2 linked regions of the Homo sapiens genome follow. The protein of the gene in region 1 purifies or fractionates together with the protein of each later gene. This does not show direct contact. Each region holds a gene or a part of one and is shown in the gene's direction. Other genes may lie near its edges. The genes, in order: ZSWIM9 and SCAI.

Evidence for each region.
Region 2: the proteins of ZSWIM9 (region 1) and SCAI purify together in Homo sapiens (affinity purification with mass spectrometry, with the first as the bait; one large-scale study listed by BioGRID). This does not show direct contact.

What each region holds. Positions count from the first base shown.
Region 1 is NC_000019.10:48,187,584-48,191,404, forward strand, and holds part of ZSWIM9 (uncharacterized protein ZSWIM9), read left to right. Parts: intron 1-3,821.
Region 2 is NC_000009.12:125,003,938-125,007,758, reverse strand, and holds part of SCAI (protein SCAI), read left to right. Parts: intron 1-3,821. UniProt on the Homo sapiens protein: Tumor suppressor which functions to suppress MRTFA-induced SRF transcriptional activity. May function in the RHOA-DIAPH1 signal transduction pathway and regulate cell migration through transcriptional regulation of ITGB1.

The sequences.
Region 1 (3,821 bases):
ATTATATAATATAATATTATATATTATATTAATATTATAATATGTAACGCATAACATGTAATATTGATAATATAATAGGTGCGATGGCTCACACCTGTAATCTCAGCACTTTGGGAGGCCGAAGCGAGAGGATCACTTGAGCCCAGGAGTTCAAGACCAGCCTGGCCAACATAACGAGCACCTGTCTCTACAAAAAATTAAAAAAAAAAAAATTAGGCATGGTGGCATGCATCTGTAGTCCCAGCTACTCAAGAGGCTGAGGCACGAGGGTTGCTTGAGCCCAGGAGCTTCAGGCTGCAGTAAGCTATGATCACACCACTGTACTCCAGCCTTGACAACAGAGTGAGACCCTTTAAATAGATAGATAGATAGATAGATAGATAGATAGATAGATAGATAGATAGACAGACAGACAGCAAGCTTTAAATTTTCATCCCAAGCCTAGGTCAAGCAACAATCAGTCTTTCCACTTCCCAGCAGTCTTCCAAAGGAAGGATTATTTGTAAAAAGTGCCTGCACTTCCTGAGTTGGGTTGCTCTCTTGATCTTTGGAGGGGATCAGACAAGAAGGATGCGCCCAAAGCCACAAGGCATGATTTAAGGGCAAGACTGGGGGGCGACTTCACCCAGGGAGGTGTTAATACCTTTTTTTTTTTTTGAGATGGAGTCTCGCTCTGTCTCCCAGGCTGGAGTGCAGTGGCGCAATCTTGGCTCAGCACGACCTCCATCTCCCAGGTTCAGGTGATTCTTGTGCCTCAGCCTCTTGAGTAGCTGGGACTACAGGCGTGCGCCACCAGGCCTGGCTAATTTTGTGTGTGTGTGTTTTAGTAGAGATGGGGTTTCATCATGTTGGCCAGAATGGTCTCGATCTCCTGGCCTGGTGATCTGCCTGCCTCGGCCTCCCAAAGTGCTGGGATTACAGGCGTGAGCCACCGCACCCAACCTTTAACACCTTTTATCACCTGCCCTGCCTGATGATGATGGGCTTTGGGGTCCAGTCACATCTCCATTCCCTCACTTGTGGCAGGCACCAGGGTAACCAGCAAGCAAGCCCTGAAAAGAGAGACCTTGCCCGGAAACGTTGCAGCGTTCTCTTACGTGTATGCTTTGCCTTCTGAGAATGGCGAGCATTGATGCAAGTGTATCCCTTTTAAGAATACTCAATGGGGCCAGGCGTGATGGCTCACACCTGTAAGCCCAGCACTTTGGGAGGCTGAGGCGGGTGGATCACGAGGTCAGGAGATCGAGACCAGCCTGGCTAACATGGTGAAACCCCGTCTCTACTAAAAATACAAAAAATTAGCCAGGTGTGGTGGCAGGCGCCTGTAGTCCCAGCTACTTGGGAGGCTGAGGCAGGAGAATGGCGTGAACCCGGAAGGCGGAGCTTGCAGTGAGCTGAGCTCACACCACTGTACTCCAGCCTGGGTGACAGAGCGAGACTCCATCTCAAAAAAAAAGAATACTCCATGGGAAGCTGGTATGATCTCAGTGGAGGGCAATTTAGCAATATCTATCAAAATGACAAGAACACTCACCCTTAGGCTCACAATCCCACTACTGGTGATTTATCCTGCAGATGTAGTTGCACAGCTGTGGAAGGACTTACTTACAAGGTTAATCATTGTTGTTTGTGAAAGCAGCAGATTAGAAACAACCCAGACTCCACCAACGGGTAATGGTTACATAACTTGTGGTATATCCATCCATGGATTACTACACAGCACTAAAAAAGAATGAGAACTTTGGGAAGCCGAGGCGGGCAGATCACAAGGTCAGGAGATCAAGACCATCCTGGCTCACATGGTGAAACCCTGTCACTACTAAAAATACAAAAAATTAGCCAGGCATGGTGGCAGGCACCTGTAGTCCCAGCTACTCGGGAGGCTGAGGCAGGAGAATGGTGTGAACTCAGGAGGCGTAGCTTGCAGCGAGCCAAGATCGTGCTACTGCACTCCAGCCTGGGCGACAGAGTGAGACTCCATCCTAAACAAACAAAAAAAAAAGAATAAGAACAAGTCTAGGAACTATTTTGAAAGATCTCTCAAACACATTTTTAAGTTAAAAAAGCAAAATGCAAAACTGTACATAATATGCTGTATTATCTATAAAATAGAGCAAATAAGAATTATAGGTATGCTTACTTGTACTCATATAAAGAAACTCTAGAAGAATACCAAGAACTGTGGATGAGGGTAGAATAGTGAATGGAAACTGACTGATTAGACTAAAGAGGTGGGAGTAAGACCTTTTATGTATCGCTTTACATTATTTGACTTTAGGACCATGTGGATGTTTGCATATTCAAATAATTAATTCTTAAAAAGAAGATGAAAATAGAAGGTGGGCGCAGTGGCTCACACCTGTAATCCCAGCACTTCGAGAGGCTGAGGTGGGTGGATCACTTGAGGTCAAGAGTTTGAGACCAGCTTGGCCAACATGGTGAAACCCCGTCTCTACTAAAAATACATAAATTAGCCAGGCATGCTCGTGGGTGCCTGTAGTCCCAGCTACTCGGGAGACTGAGGCAGAAGAATCACTTAAACCTGGGGTGGCGGAGGTCGCAGTGAGCCGAGATCATGCCACTGTACTCCAGCCTGGGTGACAGATTGAGACTCCATCTCAAAAAAAAAAAAAAGAAAGAAAATTAAGCAATAGTCCCAACATACTAAACGCATTTGTTTCTCTCCTCAAAGGAAAAATTAGAGGGCGAGTTATAGAGGGTCTTGAGGTTGTGTGAGTCAGGATGGCCTAGGTTTTGCTGTAATAATGAACAGCCCTCAAATCTCAGTGGCTGAACTCATTGAATTTTATTTCTTGCTCACTTACACAGCCACCACGGGATGTTGGGGGAGTACTGTTTATCTGAGTCATTCTGGGACCCAGGAGGATGGGCATTCAGCCCAACGTAATTACCATATCTGGCAGCGGTGGCTGCGAAGGCTTCTCCTTGGATGCGATGCCGCAGCTCCCTCCCACTCACACTTGATTGGCCAAAGCAAGTCACATGACACTGCTTACCTGCAAGGGGGCAGGGAGGTGCAACGCTACTAAGTGCCCGGGAGAGGGAGAACTGCAATTTCTTGGCAAGCGGCAAAAGATAACCACAGGGTACTGTTTCATCAAGGGCCGCCCAAAGCCCTGTCTGAATATGGGGCTCGTGTTTCCCCTGCTATGTAGTTACACAGGCCTCCTGCAGCTTAGTTTCAGCTTTTCTAGTTTTTCATGGCTCCCAGAGGGAATATTTTCTATGCCGTATAGCCTGTTTTCACATGAAGCCATTTTGGGGTGTTATAGTAACAGCTGGTGACTTGATTTTATTTATGTTGCTATGTGCTGAAAGCTTTATGAATGTTCTGGCTGTGCCAGTTACTAGCTGTGGGACATGGAACAAGTTATGAACAACCTATTTACCTTCTCCAACCCTTAGTTCATTTATCTGTAAAATGGGGATAATACTATCTTATAGGGCTGTTGGGGTTGTTGTGTGAGAAAGTGCAGTGTGTATGTGTATGTGTGTGTGTGTGTGTGTGTGTGTGTGTGTGTGCAGAATGGGTAGAACCGTGCCCAGAAGTAGGAAGCCCTGCATATGTTCAATATTTAGCTATTATTTTGTTGTTGTTGTTTGTTTGTTTGTTTTTTTGAGATGGAGTCTCTCTCTGTCGCCCAGGCTGGAGTACAGTGGCACAATCTCGGCTCACTGCAGCCTCCGCCTCCCGGGTTCAAGCAATTCTCCTGTCTCAGCCTCCCAAGTAGCTGAGATTACAGGCGCGCACCACCACGCCCAGCTAATTTTTGTATTTTTAATAGAGGTGGGGTTTCACC
Region 2 (3,821 bases), on another chromosome or scaffold:
TTGAGCCCGGGAAGTCAAGGCTGCAGTGAGCCATGATTGTGCCACACACTTCAGCCTGGGTGACAGAAGCAGACCCTGTCTTAAAAAAAATTTTTTTTTTTTCTTTTTAGAGACAGTATCTGGCTCTGTCATGCAGGTGGGAGTGCAGTGGCACAGTCATGGCTCACTGTAGCCTTGACCTCCCAGGCTGAAGTGATCTTCCTGCCTCAGCCTTCCAAAAATGTTTATGTTTTATAGAGATGGGGTGTTGCTGTATTGCCAAGGCTGGTCTCAAACTCCTGGCCTCAAGCAGTCCTTCTGCCCTAGCCTCCCAAATGTTGGGATTATAGGCATGAACCACGGCACCTGGCCCTTTTTTATTTTTTAGTAGATTTTAATTCTCTGGCAGAATTCTCTATTTCTTCATTTGTGTTCTACCATGTCTATTTTGTTGATCACACTTAGTAGTTATTTTAAAGTCCTTTTCTGCTAACTATACTCTCTAGTTATGCTAACTACAAGTGTGTTGGTCTGTTCTATTGCTTGTTTCTCACTTTTAAAATTATCATATTAATATTTATAATTACTATATATCTGATAATTTGCTTGCATATTAATTTATAATCAAATCCCCCAGCATTCTCTTTCTTTTCTTTTTGTTTTGAGACAGTCTTGCTCTGTCACCCAGGCTAGCATGCAGTGGCATGATCTCGGCTCACTGCATCTTCTGCCTCCCTGGTTCAGTTGATTCTCCCACCACAAACTCCCCAGTAGCCAGGACTACAGGCACGCCCTACGCGCCCAGCTAATTTTTGTATTTGTTAGTAGAGATGGGGTTTCACCATGTTGGCCAGGCTCGTCTCAAACTCCTGACCTTAGGTGATTCACCTGCCTCAGTCTCCCAAAGTGCTGGGATTACAGGTGCGAGCCAGCACACCTGGCCTCAGTTTTTACATTTCATTTATTGTATTTTTTATTTTTAAAAGTATAGGTCAGGTGCAGTGGCTCACACCTGTAATCCCCACACTGTGGGAGGCCGAGGCGGGCAGATTACGAGGTCAGGAGTTCAATACCAGCCTGACCAATATGGTGAAACCCCATCTCTACTAAAAATACAAAAATTAGCCGGGCGTGGTGGCGTGCGCCTGTAGTCCTAGCTACTCAGGAGGCTGAGGCAGGAGAATCACTTGAACCCGGGAGGCAGAGGTTGCAGTGAGCCGAGATCGCGCCACTGCACTCCAGCCTGGGTGACAGAGCGAGACTCCGTCTCAAATGAATGAATGAATGAATGAATGAATGTATTAGGTTATTTTCTACATATTCCTTTGATTGGCTTAATCATGATTTTAATTACTTCTTCTATTTAAGCATATGAAACTAACTTTTTTTCTTTTAAGAGACCGGGGATGGGGGTGTGCATCTCACTATGTTGCCCCTTCTTTAATCCCCGCCTCTTGGCTGGTCTCCAGCTCCTGGCCTCAAATGATCCTCCCACCTTGGCCCTCCAAAGTGCTGGGATTACAGGTGTGAGCTGCCACACCTAGACTTTTGCATGTTATGTATGATGTTTGTATCATCCTGTTTCTGTTTGCTGAATCAGGCGTGCCTTTTTTCTTCATGCGTTTTATGATTTTTGTTTCTGAGTCTTCTTTGATGTAATTCTGTCAGCTAGAATTCTGTAAGACCTGAATTGAGGATGCCTTCTTCCAACGAAGATCTGCATTGCTTTTTCCCTCAAAACTTGGGGGCAGTATCAGTTTTTGTTCTTTTTAAGTGAAAAACCTTATAGATTTTTCAGCCATGCAAATAATGTTAATTCAGATTCTCAAACCACATGAGAATCAGCATATGGCCGTGAATTCTTGGGGGAGACTTTTCTTGATCTCTTCTCAGAACAAAGGCTAAGGTAGAGTTTCCTTCATGTTTATGTCTCTGGAGCAGATTTGTTTCTAGTGTTCTCCTCTGAGGCCATATCTTTTTGTGCATCCAGTTTTATTTGGGCATAGGTGTATGTGTGGGAGGGGCCATCTTCCAACCAACCAACCAGTTCTTAGCCAGGAGGCCCATGCTACCCTTACTACAGGAAAACAAGGCATTAGTGCCCACTTATCTCCTTAAACCTCTTCCCCTTCTTTAATCCCCGTCTCTTGGCTGGGCGCAGTGGCTCATGCCTGTAATCCCAGCACTTTGGGAGGCCGAGGCAGGTGGGTCATCTGAGGTCAGGAGTTCAAGACCAGCCTGACCAACATGGTGAAACCCCGCCTCTACTAAAAATACAAAATTAGCTGGGCATGGTGGCACATGCCTGTAATCCCAGCTACTCAGGATGCTGAGGCAAGAGAATCACTTGAACGTGGGAGGCGGAGGTTGCAGTGAGCCGAGATTGCGCCGTTGCACTCCAGCCTGAGTGACAGAGCGAAACTCACATACATACACACACACGTATATTAAATGAGTTAAATGTTTGAAAGTGTAGTTAGTAATCTTCATAAACTTATTCTCATCTTAACTAAATAATTCCTCTTCTTTTATTTGATAGAAACATGTTCTTTAAAAAATTCTCATCTGTTTTATTATCATGTGTGTTCCTGAAGTTCTATATAAGTATTACTGAAATTGGAAAAGGATATAGACTTAAATATTGTGTAGTGCCAAAATGTATGGAAGAAATTACTATAAAATATGGATCATAGGCTGGGCGCGGTAGCTCATGCCTGTGATCCCAGCCCTTTGGGAGGCTGAGGCAGGAGGATCATCTGAGGTCGGGAGTTCAAGACCAGCCTGACCAACATGGAGAAACCCCATCTCTACTAAAAATACAAAATTAGCCTGGTGTGGTGGCGCATGCCCATAATCCCAGCTACTCTGGAGGCTGAGGCAGGAGAATCGTTTGAACCCGGGAGGAGGAGGTTGCAGTGAGCCGAGAGCGCGCCATTGCACTCCAGCCTGGGTGACGAGAATGAAACTCCATCTCAAAAAAAAAAAAAAAAAAAAAAAAAATATATATATATATATATATATATATATATATATATATATATATATGGATCACAGTTGTATTTCAGCATAGCTAATTCATCAAAAGTTAGCTCTTTTTTCTCATGTAGCAAGGATTACTATCAAACTTCTGTGTATAGAATTCGGGCTGAAAAGTCAGGAATCGTGGCTTATGCCTGTATTCCTAGCACTTTGGGAGGCTGAGGTGGGCAGATGACTTGAGGTCAGGAGTTTGAGACCAGCCTGGCCAACATGGTGAAACCCCATCTCTGTTAAAAATACAAAAATTAGCCAGGTGTTTTGGCACACGCCTGTAATCCCAGCTACTCCAGAGACTGAGGCAGGAGAATCGTTTGAACACGGGAGGCAGATGTTGCAGTGAGCTGAGATTGTGCCACTGCACTCCAGCCTGGGCAACAGAGCAAGACTCTGTCTCAAAAAAAAAAAAAAAAAGAATTTGGGCTGGAGATCCTTGTGGTGTTAGTGAAAAACTTGCCCCTCACATAGCACACTACCTACACGTGTGAATTCATCCACCAGTCTGTGGAGGTTAACATGTTTGTAGAACCTAATATAGTCTCTGTGCTGCTGCTGCTTTATTTTTTTTGAGACAGAGTCTTTCTCTGTTACCCAGGCTGGAATACGATGGTGCGATTTCGGTTCATTGCAACCTCCGCCTCCTGGGTTCAAGCGATTCTTCTGCCTCAGCCTCCTATGTAGCTGGGATTACAGGCATCCACCACCACACCCGGCTAATTTTTGTATTTTTAGTAGAGATGGGGTTTCACCATGTTGGCCAGGCTGGTCTCGAACTCCTGACCTCAGGTGATCCACCTGCCTTGGCC